Linked DNA regions of Homo sapiens: region 2 is linked to region 1. Evidence: fine-mapped expression QTL. Tissue or cell type: whole blood. Region 1 holds a variant in brackets; the other region holds the start of a gene. All regions are shown on one strand. Distances are between the middles of the regions.

Region 1 (8,501 bases):
GAAGTAACTCATCCAAGGCCTCATAGCTAAAAGGTGGTAGAGTTGGAATTGAACCAAGGATTCACACTTGAAAGTCTGTTTTTAACCAGAATGAGTGAGTGAGTGAGTAAGGCACTTATGTTTCCCAAATTTCTTGAAACAGAGTAAAAATGTTGACGAAAAACATATAGCCCATGGGAAACAAATACTACTTGGAAAGGCATAACAGCTTCTCACCTGTTGAGGAGTATTCCATCTTCCTGACCTCCTATTTAAACAAACAAACAAAAAAACCACACCCAGCATCACTCTGTTACTCTGTTATACTGATGTTGAAGGACTTTTGCATACACTTCTGGAAACTGGGACAACTGAGCACTACTGACCTGCCTCAGGGATGTTGTGAGGGGTAATGAAAGTTTGTGGAATGTTTAAGACATGAGTGAAAGACTTTGAAGTAATGCAAATTCTTATAAAATACAAAAGTTATTGCTGGCCCGGCGTGGTGGCTCACACCTGTAATCCCAGCACTTTGGGAGGCTGAGGCGGGCGGATCACGAGGTCAGGAGTTTGAGACCAGCCTGGCCAACATAGTGAAACCTTGTCTCTACTAAAAATACAAAAATCAGCCAAACATGGTGGCACATGCTTGTAATCCCAGCTACTCAGGAGGCTGAGGCAGGAGAATCACTTGAACCTGGGAGGTGGAGGTTGCAGTGAACTGAGATTGCACCACTGCACTCCAGCCTGGGGGACAGAGCGAGACTCCGTCTCAAAAAAAAAAAAAGTTATTGTTTTTATATTGTTATTGTCCCTGGGAATCTTTGCTATCGGTGTACTGTGTACTTCCTGCCTACCTCTGAGTTTGTAAAGTAGGTAAAAGAGCAGATGTGATTGCTAAGAATATAGCATTGACCTCTATGTAAAATTTATAGGTTCTCACACAGAGTGCTGAGGCTTTTGATCAGCATCTTTGAAAGTATTGCTTGTATACATTTCAAGTAAAAGATCATTCTAATTATTTCATAGTCATACTTTACATGAAAGAGCTTTGTAAATAATTGGAAAATCTTTAACAAGCTTTGATTAATAATGCTGGCTTTAATTTTAACTTCATATTATTGTTTTCCAAATGATTTCCATAATAGAGACCATGGTGGATCTAAGCATGAGATTTTAAGTTCCTGCCTTTCAAAGGTGTGGCTAAAAACAAGGAGGATAGAAAACACTGTGTGCTGTCATGCCAAGCTCTCTGTGTAGGGACTTTATCTTCACCATTGCATTTCATCCTCAAAACAGCCCTGCAAGGTAAGTATCTGTATTTTATAGATGGGAAAAACTAAGATTCAGAAAGTTTACATAACTACAAATCTGGTAAGAACTAGAGCCGAGATCCATTTCCTGCTCTGTCTTTTCTCACAGTTGTTGCTACAAGGCCACTGAGCTGACTCACCACCCCGGGAGTCAGTGAAGGCTTCCCCGAGGAAGCAGTGTTTGAGCTGAGCCTTGAAACAGAAGTAAGAAGACTCCAGGTAAATGAGAATAGCAAGTGCATTTCAGGCAAAGGAAAGGAAGTGTGAATGAGCAGGTGTGCCCTGTGAACTAAAGATGGCTGTCCAGGGCAGAGCATGCATTTTACGAGGCTTGCAGGAGACCCAGTATTACAAGTAGGAGATTCAACAGGACCACCAATACTGGGCATGCAGGTGTCGCCATGCAACTGTAGAAACGGGAATGTCTGGTCTCCAAATTCTCATTGATCAGAGAAAATAAGAATGGGGTAATGAAATAATTTTTTCCTGAGGTGTATTCTTAACTTCCAACTAAATTTTCACTGCTGAATCTTCATAGCCAACACTGCACAAGTGTTATTGACACAGTGCATTGGACCCAGAGAATGGAAAAGATGCTAGGCTTTTTTTTTTTTTTTTTTTTTTTTTTTGAGACGGAGTCTCACTCTGTCGCCCAGGCTGGAGTGCAGTGGCGCGATCTCGGCTCACTGCAAGCTCCGCCTCCCGGGTTCACGCCATTCTCCTGCCTCAGCCTTCTGAGTAGCTGGGACAACAGGCCGCCACCACACCCGGCTAATTTTTTGTATTTTTTTAGTAGAGACGGGGTTTCACCGTGTTAGCCAGGATGGTCTCGATCTCCCGACCTTGTGATCCGCCCGCCTCGGCCTCCCAAAGTGCTGGGATTACAGGTGTGAGCCCCCACGCCCGGCCGCTGCCAGGCTTTTTGCCTTCTCCAGGCCGGCATATATTTGGTGCGCATTTAAATCTCCCTTAAACAAAGTGTAGAAAAAAAAGTGCTTTAACAAATTTGAATCAATATATCTTTCACCTGTGCAAGATCTATGAGAATAGAGACTGAAAGTTTTTTCATTATATTAATAAATCACTAGTGCTTAGCGTGAAATAGTTTCTTAATTCTTTTCAACAGATAAACAAATATGTAGATTTTGAAAACATCTTTTAAATTCCTATTAAATATCTCGTTTTAAAAATACATCTGAAATAAATCTTTCCCTACACATATTAAAAAACCTTTTTCTTTTGGGGTTTACAAGTAGTCTCTCCAAGGAACTGGGGCAAAGAAAATTCCAAGGAAGCTACACGTATTAGAAAAATCTTTGTGTTAGTTGAGAACTGTACCATGTAACTTTGTAAGACAATATTTTATTTAATTTTCTTAAACGTTGTTATAAAGGGATGTCACTATAGTGATACTGTTTTAGGTGGATATAATACTTACCTTTACCCTCTTTTTATTGATTTTTAAATATTACACACATTTTAATTAGTGGCAATTTTACAATAATGTGAGGCTCTTAGAAAAGTGTTCATTTTTGCTCATGAGAAATGGGAAATGTGTTGGAGTTTTGGAGTTCCAGTTCAAATAACTGAAGAAAAAAATATATGTATATATGTATATAGTGGCTTCAACTGCATACTTTAATCAGCTTAGGAACAGTTATCCCAAATTTCTTTCTTAACACATAGTATTATTCTTTCCAAAGTGACTAAAACTAAGAATTTTTGAATAACGTTTATTTCTGTGATAAAGTAATTATGTACAAGTTAGAAGTTATGCTAGGGGGCCTGGAAATTCTCGGACAGAAATTCTATTTTCTCATAATTTCATGGCTTTTAAATATGTCGCCATTGCATAGAGTTTTCACAGCAGCTGGTAGAGATGTAATATTAATTTTATTTGCCTAGGGAAGGGAAGGAAGTAGCTGGCCATTGTGTGTATGTGATGTAGTAGGGAAGACTAGGTTACTCTGAAGTAGTTTCGAGCATTAGTACCTTAGGTATTGCATTGAATTATTTAAGAAGGTGGGGAAAGTTCAGAAGAAAATGATTGGAATGATAGTACCAAAATTTCAGTGAGGTATGGTTAGTGGAATTAGAAATATTTATCCTGGACACCATAGGAGAATATAAAACTAGTTTCAAATATTTGGAGAGCTGACAAGTAGAAGATAAATTAAGGAATTGTTTGTATTGTCCTATGGCCTTGAGAAGAAGCTATATGGAGTCTTTTGCCTCAAAATGAGAAAAGCACAAAGATGTCCAAAGAGGCAAAGAGAATTCTCATTCAAGATGGCAGACACAGCACATATCTCCTTTCTACTTTAAATCTCATAGAAATGTCAGCAAAGAAGAACTAAGGGTAATAAATTAAAGACTACTCGGTACAGAAGAAAGGGCATCAGGAACTAGGGATATAGATAAGTTTCTTGAAAGTGGGAATACTTGGAATTGTATTAACAGCTTAAATCACATTCACAGGAGAAGGCTGCAGTAGAGGCTAGAGCTATTTTTCCTGGCAACAGACCCAGAGAGAAGCTCAACACTTGGAGTATGAAAGGAGAGTTGGAAAGAAATCAACTGTGGAATAACTGCGTGAGTCATAGTCCATGTTCTCCTTCCCTGCAT[C/T]ACATGCTCAGGCTAAAACCAGAGGACTAATATTTAAAATAATTGAATAGTCTTCGTGAGAAGGAGCCCTAGTTGGGGTGATGCCTCATCTGAGTAAACTTCTTCCCACTTTTGCTGGGAAGTGGGAGAAGTAGGGAGGGGGACCTCCAACCTCCTCTTCTTTCACTACAAGGTCTAAAGCAAAGGCTGCCAGTGACAGCCACTTGTGTAGACAAGAGAGAGCTGGACAAGGCCGAGCTATCTGCATTGAATGAGGTGACTTACCTCAGTTGTAGGTATGAATCTATAGCCAAGGATTATGAAAACCTGAAGAAAAATGAGGACAAAAGAGCAGGTTGAGAGAAAAAATACCCTGACTCTGGAGGAAATAGATAATTCAGGACATAGAAAATTCTTTATTCTATGTAGTATCCTCATGGAAACAAAGTCGAGAGAAAGCATTTTTAGTGCAAAATTAGATTGCTAAGAAAGAACAACTAAAACAAAATAAATAGTTATTAAAATGAAAAAGTAATTGTTAAAGTTAGAAATTCAAGGGAAGACCTGGGAGAAAAAGTTGAAGAAACTGCTCTAAATGTAGTGCAAAAAGATAAAGGATGGAAAATGTGGGAGAAAAGTGAAGAGATTAGAGAAGCATCCAAAGGGATGTTCAGAAAGAGACAAAACAAAGAATAAGAGAGAATTTTCCATAAGTGAGGAAATAGGACTTGAGATTGTAAGAACCCTAGAGAATGCAAAATAGGATGAATGAACAAACTTAGCCCAAGGCACATTCTTGTGACATTTTAGATATTGAGAATAAAGGGAAGAGTCTAAAAGCCAAAAGAATAGATTACTCAGTGAGAATCCAATTGGTATTAGATAGATCATCAGCAACTGTAAATGCTAAGAAAAACAAAACAAGAAGCATGCCTTCAAAATGTGTAAAATAAAGTTTTTTGAACCTAAAATTCTCTACTTAGCCAAACTATCAATCGATCAAGAGTGAGGCATTTTCAAGCATGCAAGAACTCAGACCATTTACCACCCACAGACTATTTCTGAAAGAATTACTGAAGCAAAACAAAAAAGAATCCAAGTAGGAGGAAGCCATGGCCTCTAAGGAACAGTGGATCTCACCCAAGATTGTAATGAAATATAATTCCAGGATGACAACCTTGAGGCAGGCCTAGAAAGCCATCAGTCTGAATTAGAACCAGAAGTCAGATGCTCTGTGAAGAATCTCTTTCAGGAGGACATGGATTTCTTCTATAAATTGAATGACTGAGAAGCTGAGTGGTCTTGTGACAAGGCAAAGGCATGGTAGGTCATTGTGATAAGGTATCATCCAAACACTCTCCAAACTGTGAAGTAATTTTCTTCTTCCAATAGCAAAGGTTTATTGACAAGAGTTACGTCTCCTCTATAGGCTCAAGGGCACAGCTGTGCTTGGTTCTGCAGTGAACAATGATCTCCCTACGAATATTATGAATGCTACTTTTCAGTTTTCAGTTTAAAAAATCAATTTATAGACAATGCATCAAAGATTAATTGTAGTTATAGGACAAGTGTGAAAACAATAGTACACTGGAATGGAGGTTAGGAGAGAGGGAAGGAGCAAAGGAACAAGATGTAATGATGTTGGATTCTTTTCATCAGAAATAAAAAGAATTAAGAGATATTGTGTCTACATTTGAGAAGTCAAAATAGGGTTTCAAGTATCTTATATAAATTTGTTAATTGTAGTGATATCACACTGAGGCACTATAACATAGTCGTTAAGAGCATGGATCCTGGAGCCAGAACACCTGCGTTTGAATTTTTGCCACACACTTCAATTTGGGCAAATTGCTTATCTGTGCCTTGGTTTTCTCAGCAAAAATTGAAAATAAATAGTTAATATTTCACAAAGTTATTTGAAAATAAAAACAGTTGATATATATAAAGTGCTTAGAACAGTCTTTGGCACATAAAAAATTATTCTATATCATCATATGTTACCGATGATAACGATGATGATGATGATGATGGAAAACAACTAAACATCTGGAGAAAAGGGAACCCTTGTACCCTGCTGGTGGGAAAGTAAATTAGTACATTGATTATGGAAAACAGTCTGGAGGTTCCTCAGAAAATTAAAAATAAATCTACATATTACCCAGAAATGGGATTTCTGGGTATATATGCAAAGAAGATGAGATAAGTATGCCAAAGAGACATCTGCACTTTCATGTTCACTGCAGCATTATTTACAGTATCCAAGAAATGAAATCAATGTAAGTGTCCATCAGTGGATGAATGGGTAAAGAAAATGCGGGGAGGGGGATTAGGAAGATGTTGGTCAAAGGATACAAGGTTTCAGTTAGACAGGAGGAATACATTCAGGAGATCTATTGTACAATATTGTGGCTATAGTTAATAACAATGTTTTATATTCTTGAAAGTTGCTCTAAGAGAATAGGTTTTAAGTGTTGTCACCATAAAAATGTTAAGTATGTGAGCTAATGCATATGTTAATTTGCTCAATTTAGCTATTTCACAATATATACATATTTTAAAACAACATATTGACATGATAAATATATACAATTCTTTGTCAGGTACAAAGTTAAATGAAAATACAACACAAAACATTGAAAAAGTTAAAAAATAAAAATTTAATGGGCAGAGATCGGAAAAGGGAGGTAGTAGCTTGAGAAAATTTATTTTTTCAATTTTTTTAAAATGAGAGATCAACGAATGTTTAAACTTGACAAGTTAGTAAAGAGAGGCATAACCATATTCAGTGTTATGGAAGCAATCTTCAGAGAAATTTCTATTTTGTCCTATTTTAAGGGTTTTTAAAAATTCATATGCAAGCACTACTTTTATTTAGTTTTTACCAATTTTACTGAGGTGTAATTGACATACAATAAACTGCACATATTTAAAGTGAACAGTTTGATACATTTTGGACTTAGGTACACACCCCTGAAACTATCACAGTAATCAAGATGATGAACATAACCACCAACCATCATGCTCTAAAGTTTCTTCATGCACCTTGATAATCTCTTCTTCCTACCTCTTCCCACTCCCCCAATCTCAGGCAACCACCGTTCTGCTTATGTGACAATAAATTGGCTTGCATTTCCTAGAATTTTATATCAATGAAATCATATAGTATGTACTCTTACATCTGACTTCTTTCATTCAGCATAATTATTTTGAGATTATTCACACTATACTGTGTAACAATACATTCATTCTGTGGATAAACCACAATTAACAAATTTACTTGTTGATGGAAATCTGGTTTTTGTTTTGCTTTTTCCAGTTTTTGGCTATTACAAATAGAACTGCTGTGATCCTTCATGTACAAGTCTTGGTATGGGCTGGGATTTCATTTCTTTGGGATAAATACTTAGAAGTGGAATGGCTGGATTATATGATAGGCATATGTTTAAATTTTTAAGAAACTGTCAAACTGTTTTCCAAAGTGTTTTACAGTATATGAGAATTCCAGTTTCTCCACATCCTTATCTTGGCAGTCAACTCTATCAGCCATTCTGACAGCTATGTTGTGGTATCTTATTGCAGTCTTATTTTACATTTCCTTGGTGACTATTTATATTGACTATCTTCTCATGTTTTTGTTTGTCATCTGTATATCTTTATGGAAAAGTATCTGTTCAGATATTTTGGTCGTTTAAAAAATTGTTTTTTTTTCTTTTTATTGAGATTTCAGTTTTCTTTATGTATTTTGGATACAAAGCTTTCATTAAAGATATGATTTACAAATGTTTTCTTCCAATCTGTAGCTTGACTTTTTATTCTTTTAACAGTGCCTTCTGAAGAATAGAAATTTTTTATTTTGGTGAGGCTCAATCTTTACCTTTTTTCCTTTCATGGATTATGCTTGGGTGTTATGTTTACCAAATATTTGCATAACCTATGATCACAAAGATTTTCTATTGGGTTTAGTGTTAGGTTTTGTATTGAAGTCTGTGATCAGTTTAAAGCTAATCCTTGTGTGTGGTTGAAACAAAATTAATTTTTTTTGCATACATGTATTCAATTGTTCCAATGCCATTTGTTGAATCTCTCCTTTCTTCACCAAATTGCCTTTGTACTTTTGCCAAACATCAGTTGCTGAAATATGTGTTGGTCTATTTATGGACTCTATTTTGTTCCATTGATATATTTGTTTATCTTGATTCTAATATCAGACTGTATTGATTAGTCTTATAATAAGCCTTGAAAGTACACAGTTAGTTCTCCAACTTTGCTTTTCTTTGTCAAAATTGTTTTGGCTCTTTTTTTTTTTTTTTTTTTTTTTTTGAGATGGAGTCTTGCTCTGTTTCCCAGGCTGGAATGCTGTGGCGCAATCTCAGCTCACTGCAGCCTCTGCCTCCTGGGTTCCAGCAATTCTCCTGTCTCAGCCTCCCTAGTAGCTGGGATTACAGGCGTAAGCCACCATGCCTGGCTAATTGTGTGTGTGTGTGTGTGTGTGTGTGTGTGTGTGTGTGTGTGTGTATTTTTAGTAGAGATGGGGTTTCACCATGCTGGCCAGGCTACTCACGAACTCCTGACCTCAGGTGATCTGCCTGGCTCAGCCTCCCAAAG
Region 2 (6,251 bases), 250 kb after region 1:
AAAGCCTCTCTGGGATACTTTCAGGATCCTTGGAGTCAGGGCTCTATACAGGGCTATTTTAAAGTGTGATGGTTCACTGAAAAATGTTGTCAAACAGCAAAGTACCAATCTTTTTGAATCACTAGGTCATATTTTAGAGACTGTGAGTTCTACCCTTGCAGGAACGTGACTTTTTCACACTGTATTTTCTCAAATAGGAGAGAAGAGAATTCCAACCAGTGAGATGAGAATTGCACAAATCCTGCAGCCCATCTCTGCCACAGCTCAAAGTAAGCAACTTTTACTGCTGTATTCTTAAATAGTCCCAAGGATCAAATTATATCTCTGCTAAAACATTGTTAGGCCTAACTTCCTCACCAAGAATGTGGACTTTGGTCCGACTGCCAGGTTAAGAGGGCGTTTCTTGAAAACTTTTGTTTCTTTGTAGGCACAGTATGTGCTTATTAGATATAAAAGCTAATGGATTAACTAATTCCTTTAGCCTTTCCAAAATAGAGGTTTCATGGAACTATCTAGGCCCATAACAAATGTTTCTGTGATGAAACAAACTCAGGAAACTGTATATTTTCTTTTTCCCTTAAAGCTTCACAGAATGCATCATCTCATTAAAAGCTCCAGAAACCCTACAAAGAAGAAACCTTACCTGGTATCCCCCAAACTAAGATTGATAGATTTCCACTGGTTTGTAAAAGAGATTCTTATTCTGAGAAGTTCTCATGGCTCTTAAAAAGAAGTCACCTTCTCATTGTATAGACTTAGACACATAATTTGTACTTTTTTTTCAGATTGTTGGGTAAGTAATGACCCAGACCATTGAAGAAAATGAGGAAACTGTGCACACAGACTGATGTCTTATGTGACCAACATGCATATAAGAAATGGAAGCTTCCCCCTATCTTTCCAGAGTTCAAAAATCCTATTGCTGAATTCACCTCCAATTCCATGAAACAATATAAAAGATCCTCCATAAAGACCCCAGGTTATAATGTTTACAATTTATTTTGTACTCCTTTTCTCTGGTAATTGATGACTGCTATTATTAATGAAGACATTACAAGGAATAAAAGGGCTTGCCTGCCACTTCTCACCACAAAACCGTGTGGCATCAAACAGAATGAAATCCTTCTGACACTGACAGCTGGAGAAAACCTTGTCACCACAGTGACAGTGTCAAGTGTGGTGTGACATCTCTGTGTGTGTTTCTTTTGCACCTAATAACTTCGTTGCCAATACAGACCAAAATAATGAAAGAAAACCTGCTTTTGCCAGCCCAAAGGATTAACTGTACTGTTGAGAAAACTGCAGGAATATTTGACATGAGATCACAATTTTTAATTCTTTTCCCCCCAGGATTCTGCATGAAGTATTTTTCTATGAAGGATTTAAATAGAATTACTTTTCCTCACATTGGTCATGGAGAGAATTAAGACATTAACTGTTGATCCAATTTATACTGCCATTTGATCCCATAAGTGCTATACAGGACTCGGTTACTCATGGAAAATAGTTCCTGCCAGATCAAACACTCTCAGGGCCAAAGTCACAAGATTCTGACTTTACATGCTCTGTTCTGCCTCCTTTCATTTTGCCTCTTGGATTGTCATGAACTTCCTGAGCAAGAAGGCCATCCACCATGCAGTGTAATGTCTTGCTAAGAGAAATTAGTATTCAGTCTGCTCAGGTTCCAGCAAGGACTTTCTTCATGAAGATCTTCAAGTGGAATCAAGGTAGGAACTGTTATCCTTTTCAGTCCTTGTGCTATTCATTCACACCTTGGAACAAAAACAAAGCTGAACTCTTTAGAGGGGAAAATTGATACCGCATGGTTTCTGGTGTATCTGCAACTTTTGGCTCTGGTTTGGAAAAGGGTGTGTATGTGTCATGCACACATGTCTATTTCATCCTATCTGACAAATACCTTTGTGAATTGCTTTGTTGACTATTTGGGTGTTACTGCAGGTTACAAATTTCTAAGAGGGCTGGGAGACGTCTTTAAATCCCATAGGCATTGGATCATGTGTCCTCTAGTGGCCATGAACACTAGTTTTAGATGAAAGGTCTCATTTTCAGATAAGTATGAGGAATACTTTATTTTCAGCCCTCTCTTTTAAGAGGCATAAAATCTTTTAGTGCTGAAAACACTTGTACTACCTATAATAAAGAATTATGTTTAAGTCAGTGTGTTCCTAATTTGACTATGGAATTCAAACTTCTTGTAAGAGTCCACAGACCAGGTAAGACTTAAAGATTTGCCAACATTCAAAACCTCTGAAAAATAACCCATTACTTGGCAGCTAGGTGATCTCCCTCCTAATTTATCTGGCTCTATTTTCTTTTCTCTACCATCACCAATAGCATCTTTCTAATCCCTCACTCGGATCTTCTCATTCCTCCATTCATTAGAATACCAGTTCATTTCTTCAATAAACATGCCAAATAGGAGTGGCTCTAACAAGACGGGAAGTTTTTTCTGATGTGACAGTCTGTATATTTGCAGTCCAGGACTTGAATGGTGACAGCAAGAGGACAGAGGCTCCAGGTTCCTTTTGTTTTAGTGCTCTGCCATGTGTAGGGTGTTTCCCATCCAAATGTTCCAAGATGTCTTACCACTGTGTCTGTATTCCAGGCAATGGGAAGGAGGGAAGGTGAAGGGGAGAGAATTTTCCTTCCTTGCAAGAGCATCATCTGCAAGTTGTGTTTCTGCTCACACCCCATTGACAGAGCTTTATTGCTTGATCACAGCTAGCTGCAAACGAGGCTAGGAGATGTTTTAGTCAGTCTGGTAGCCTTTGTCACACTACAATTTCTATGTTAGAGGAGAGAGAGAGAGAACATATATTAGGGAATAGCTAACCATCTCTGCTACACCTATGACCTTCCATTTGTCTCTTACAATGAGTTTGTGAAGTTAGAATTTTTATCCCAAGTTTTCCACTGAGAAAAATAAAGCTCATAAACCTGAAATAATTTTAATATTGTCACCATGTTAAGAATGATTAAGGGTGTGAAGTTTTGTCTGCTTCCAAGCTAACAAGGGAGCCGCCACAATTGCATGGATTCTTGCAGAAGACACAGATTCCTGAGTCAGACACAGAGGACTTTATCACTCATGGCACAGCAAGCAGCATCAGCTCCAATATTCATGTAGGTTCTTCTTGTCCTCCAAATCCTATGGGGCATTAGGGGGTGGCCAAGGTAGATGCTGCAAACGCAGTCGGTTTGCACCAAAGGTGAAAAACCCCGAGCTTAGGAAACTACAAGCTTTTAAAGAGGCTATAAGGAAACCTGCCCAACTTTTTCCTTAGAAGGAAACCTTTTTTTTAGTATCCTAGTTAAGAAACAAATCTCTCTGCTTGAGAGAGGCACGCTACCTCTAACCTCCAAGAAGTTCACCATACAAATATTCTTGGAAGGCAGTCCCAAATAAAAGTCTCTTTGTTGACAAGGCTTGCAGAAACATGAGACACCCCTGGACATTTTTTTTCCCAACACACAGATAGTCTTGCTATCTTCATTACAATAAAGGTACTTCTTCAAGAAATCTCCCACTGACCATGCCTCCATCATCAGGGCAGTTCTCACTTTTTATTGTAATTGTTCACACCTCTGGATCTCCATATTGGAATATCAGTTCCTTGAAGGCAGGGGCTATGGCTTTGCTTTTATATCCCTAGCACCTAACACATTACTTGGAATATGGAACATGTTCAACAACTATTTTGAATGAAGTATATTAGAATAAGATTTACTTAAGGGATAGAACAAATCAGCAAGCATTACATGTTATTGAATCCACTTGAGGTTCTCTTTGTATGGATCCTAGGGTAGGTGGCTAATTTTTATGATTCAGGCCTCAAATACCACTCCCCTGACCACTGTATTTAAAACATCATTCTAGATAAGTCTAATGATAAGCACTTGTCACTACCTAATATTATTCTGCTTGTTTATTTAGGTATCTGACTCCCCTTCTAGAATAGAAACCCATGACTTCAAGGACTTGCCTATCTAGTTCATGACTATATTTCTATACTCTAAAATAGTGTCGGGCCTAAAATAGAAGTTTCATAGGTATTTTTGAATGAATAAGTGAATGAGTAAATTCAGCAAACATTCACTAAGTTTATACCATCTGCTAGGAACAAAATGTTTTACCATGTCACAGTGGCCCACAAAGAATACTGTTACTTTGGACAACTGAAACAATTCAATATCTGGGTTGAGTTGAGTGGCAGCATCACTTTTGTTGGGGCAGTGAGCTTCCATTCCTCACTACAGATATTCCACTGCTGGCTTGAGCTGGGTCCTGAACACTGTCCTTTCCTGGTCTTGCTGGCGAAGGCATCCTGTGCCAGCAGGCAGCTTCATTGCCTTCCTCTCCTCTCCGAGCCCCTACGTAGCCATCCTGCTTATCAGGTGCACACAGTTCTGGTCAGGTAGCCTCAGGGAGCCCATCTGATTGGCTCTGTGGGTCCCCACACCTCCAAGAACTCCATGCCTTTCATATGATGCTTAACCATTTGTTTATCCTCATTCTTACCTGGGCAGCAGGTAGCTATCAGACCCTCTCTCACCTTTCCTTTACTCTTCTTCCACCTCTACTTGATCTCCTGTAGCAGCCTTGCCCATGAAGTCATGCCTGTGGCTCCACTGAGAAATTCGATTAAGTATTCCAATACTGCTGTGAAACGAAGTGATCTGATTCCGGTGAGACAATTTATCTTGCAAGGTATATCAATACTCATTTTATTCATTATTTACCCATTTCCAAAAATGATGTGAAGTGGGAAAATGTCAATGTTGAACAACAAAAATAGTAAAATCCCTTTGGGGGGAAGATCATTATAATTTGTTTAAATGCTGACAAATATTGATATCAATGGTAAACGTAGAAGTGGGGCATGAGGGAAATTACCAGAGGGAAATGACTAGGATATTTTTCAAGCCATCATTGATTCAAAATGAATTATGAGAGTAGAGCTTTGCATGGAAAATTAAAGGCCTAATACTAAAAATAATTATTAAGCATTTTCTTACTTTTGTAGATGAAGAAGTTACCTCAGAGAAGTCAAATAATTTACCCAGAGTCACAAAATAAGCAAATGATGGAATATTCAAATCCAGGTCTTCTGACTCTACCTCTATCTGCCTTAGAGGTTTCTGAAGTATTGATAAGATGGAGGCTGGAAGAGCTTGAAACAGACCATATAAAGCCAGGTCTGAGCTGGAAAAGCAAAGAGGCCCAAGGAACAGCACAGACCCTGACTGGTGGGGTATCTGTGTATTTTAAATAACAAATACAACAAAGATTCAAGGTTCAGCATGTACCCAGATGTTTCCATTATTGATATATATATGCCAGTTTAAAATATTTAAATGGAAAACAGTTTGTGTCCACTTCATTTTAGAACTATGCCAGTTACAGGAATCACCCCAGTATCAGTTATGTCTTACTCATGTCAAAGAACCAGGGTCAGAAGAAAAAAATCTCCAGTAAAGATCCTTGCAACTCAGGAACACTCTTTCCTCTGAATACTGCTATGAACTAGAGTTAAAAGAAAGCATTTTTTAAAAGAAATGATTTATTCGTTCCTCATGATAAACATATCAAAACATCACATTGTACCACATAAATATATGCAATTATTTGGTTAACTGAAAATAAAATAAAATTTAAAAAGAAATAGAACGAACCTGAGTTAAACCCTGAGTTAAATGACTTTTTAACAAAATTCAATGGATTTAGTTTGAATTCATGTTTGCCCATATAATGAATAGAGTGTTATTTATGACAACATCCAGAAGAACAGATCTCAGGGGTTGGCTTTATTACAGTATGTTAGTTTAAATTAATTTGCCACTATTCCCTACAGTTATTCTTTAGTCTTCCCCTGAAGATTTACACACACACACACACACACACACACACACACACACACACACACCTCCTTCCAGAAATGTAAGAAATATCTTTACCCTCATCCTATCCTATCTTTAAGATGCCAACTTCTAGCTTTGTAAGTAGGAAGGATTAAAACATGAGAAAGAAAAGTAGGCCTAACTTGTCATGAAAATAAAATATATGGTCAAAGCCCATACCAAATAATAATGCCTGTATTTTTCCAGATATGAAGTTCCTCTTTTTTGCTCTTAAATGGGTTGAGAGATTGTGATAGGTAGTGGGGGGAAAAAGCATTTAGGGCCCTGAATTTTGTATTATGGTGTTTTTGCTACTAGAAAACACATGTCTC

The links. PIP is the estimated chance that this variant, and not a neighbour inherited with it, causes the effect.
Region 2: it holds the start of LINC01479, and the variant in region 1 is the best candidate, but not a certain one, in a credible set for the expression of LINC01479 in whole blood (TOPMed, PIP 0.62).

Annotation. Positions count from the first base shown.
Region 1 is chr12:67,677,462-67,685,962 of GRCh38, forward strand. It overlaps LOC105369816 (a long non-coding RNA gene), which reads left to right. Exons shown (of 3, transcript XR_945052.3): 1 at 1-1,287; 2 at 1,402-1,511; 3 at 3,771-7,689. Among named protein-coding and RNA genes, the nearest start is that of DYRK2, 33 kb to the left of the region's middle. The variant C/T (reference allele first, on the strand shown) is at 3,918.
Region 2 is chr12:67,927,661-67,933,911 of GRCh38, forward strand. It overlaps LINC01479 (long intergenic non-protein coding RNA 1479), which reads left to right and starts at 1,575. Exons shown (of 3, transcript NR_120456.1): 1 at 1,575-1,727; 2 at 4,617-4,729.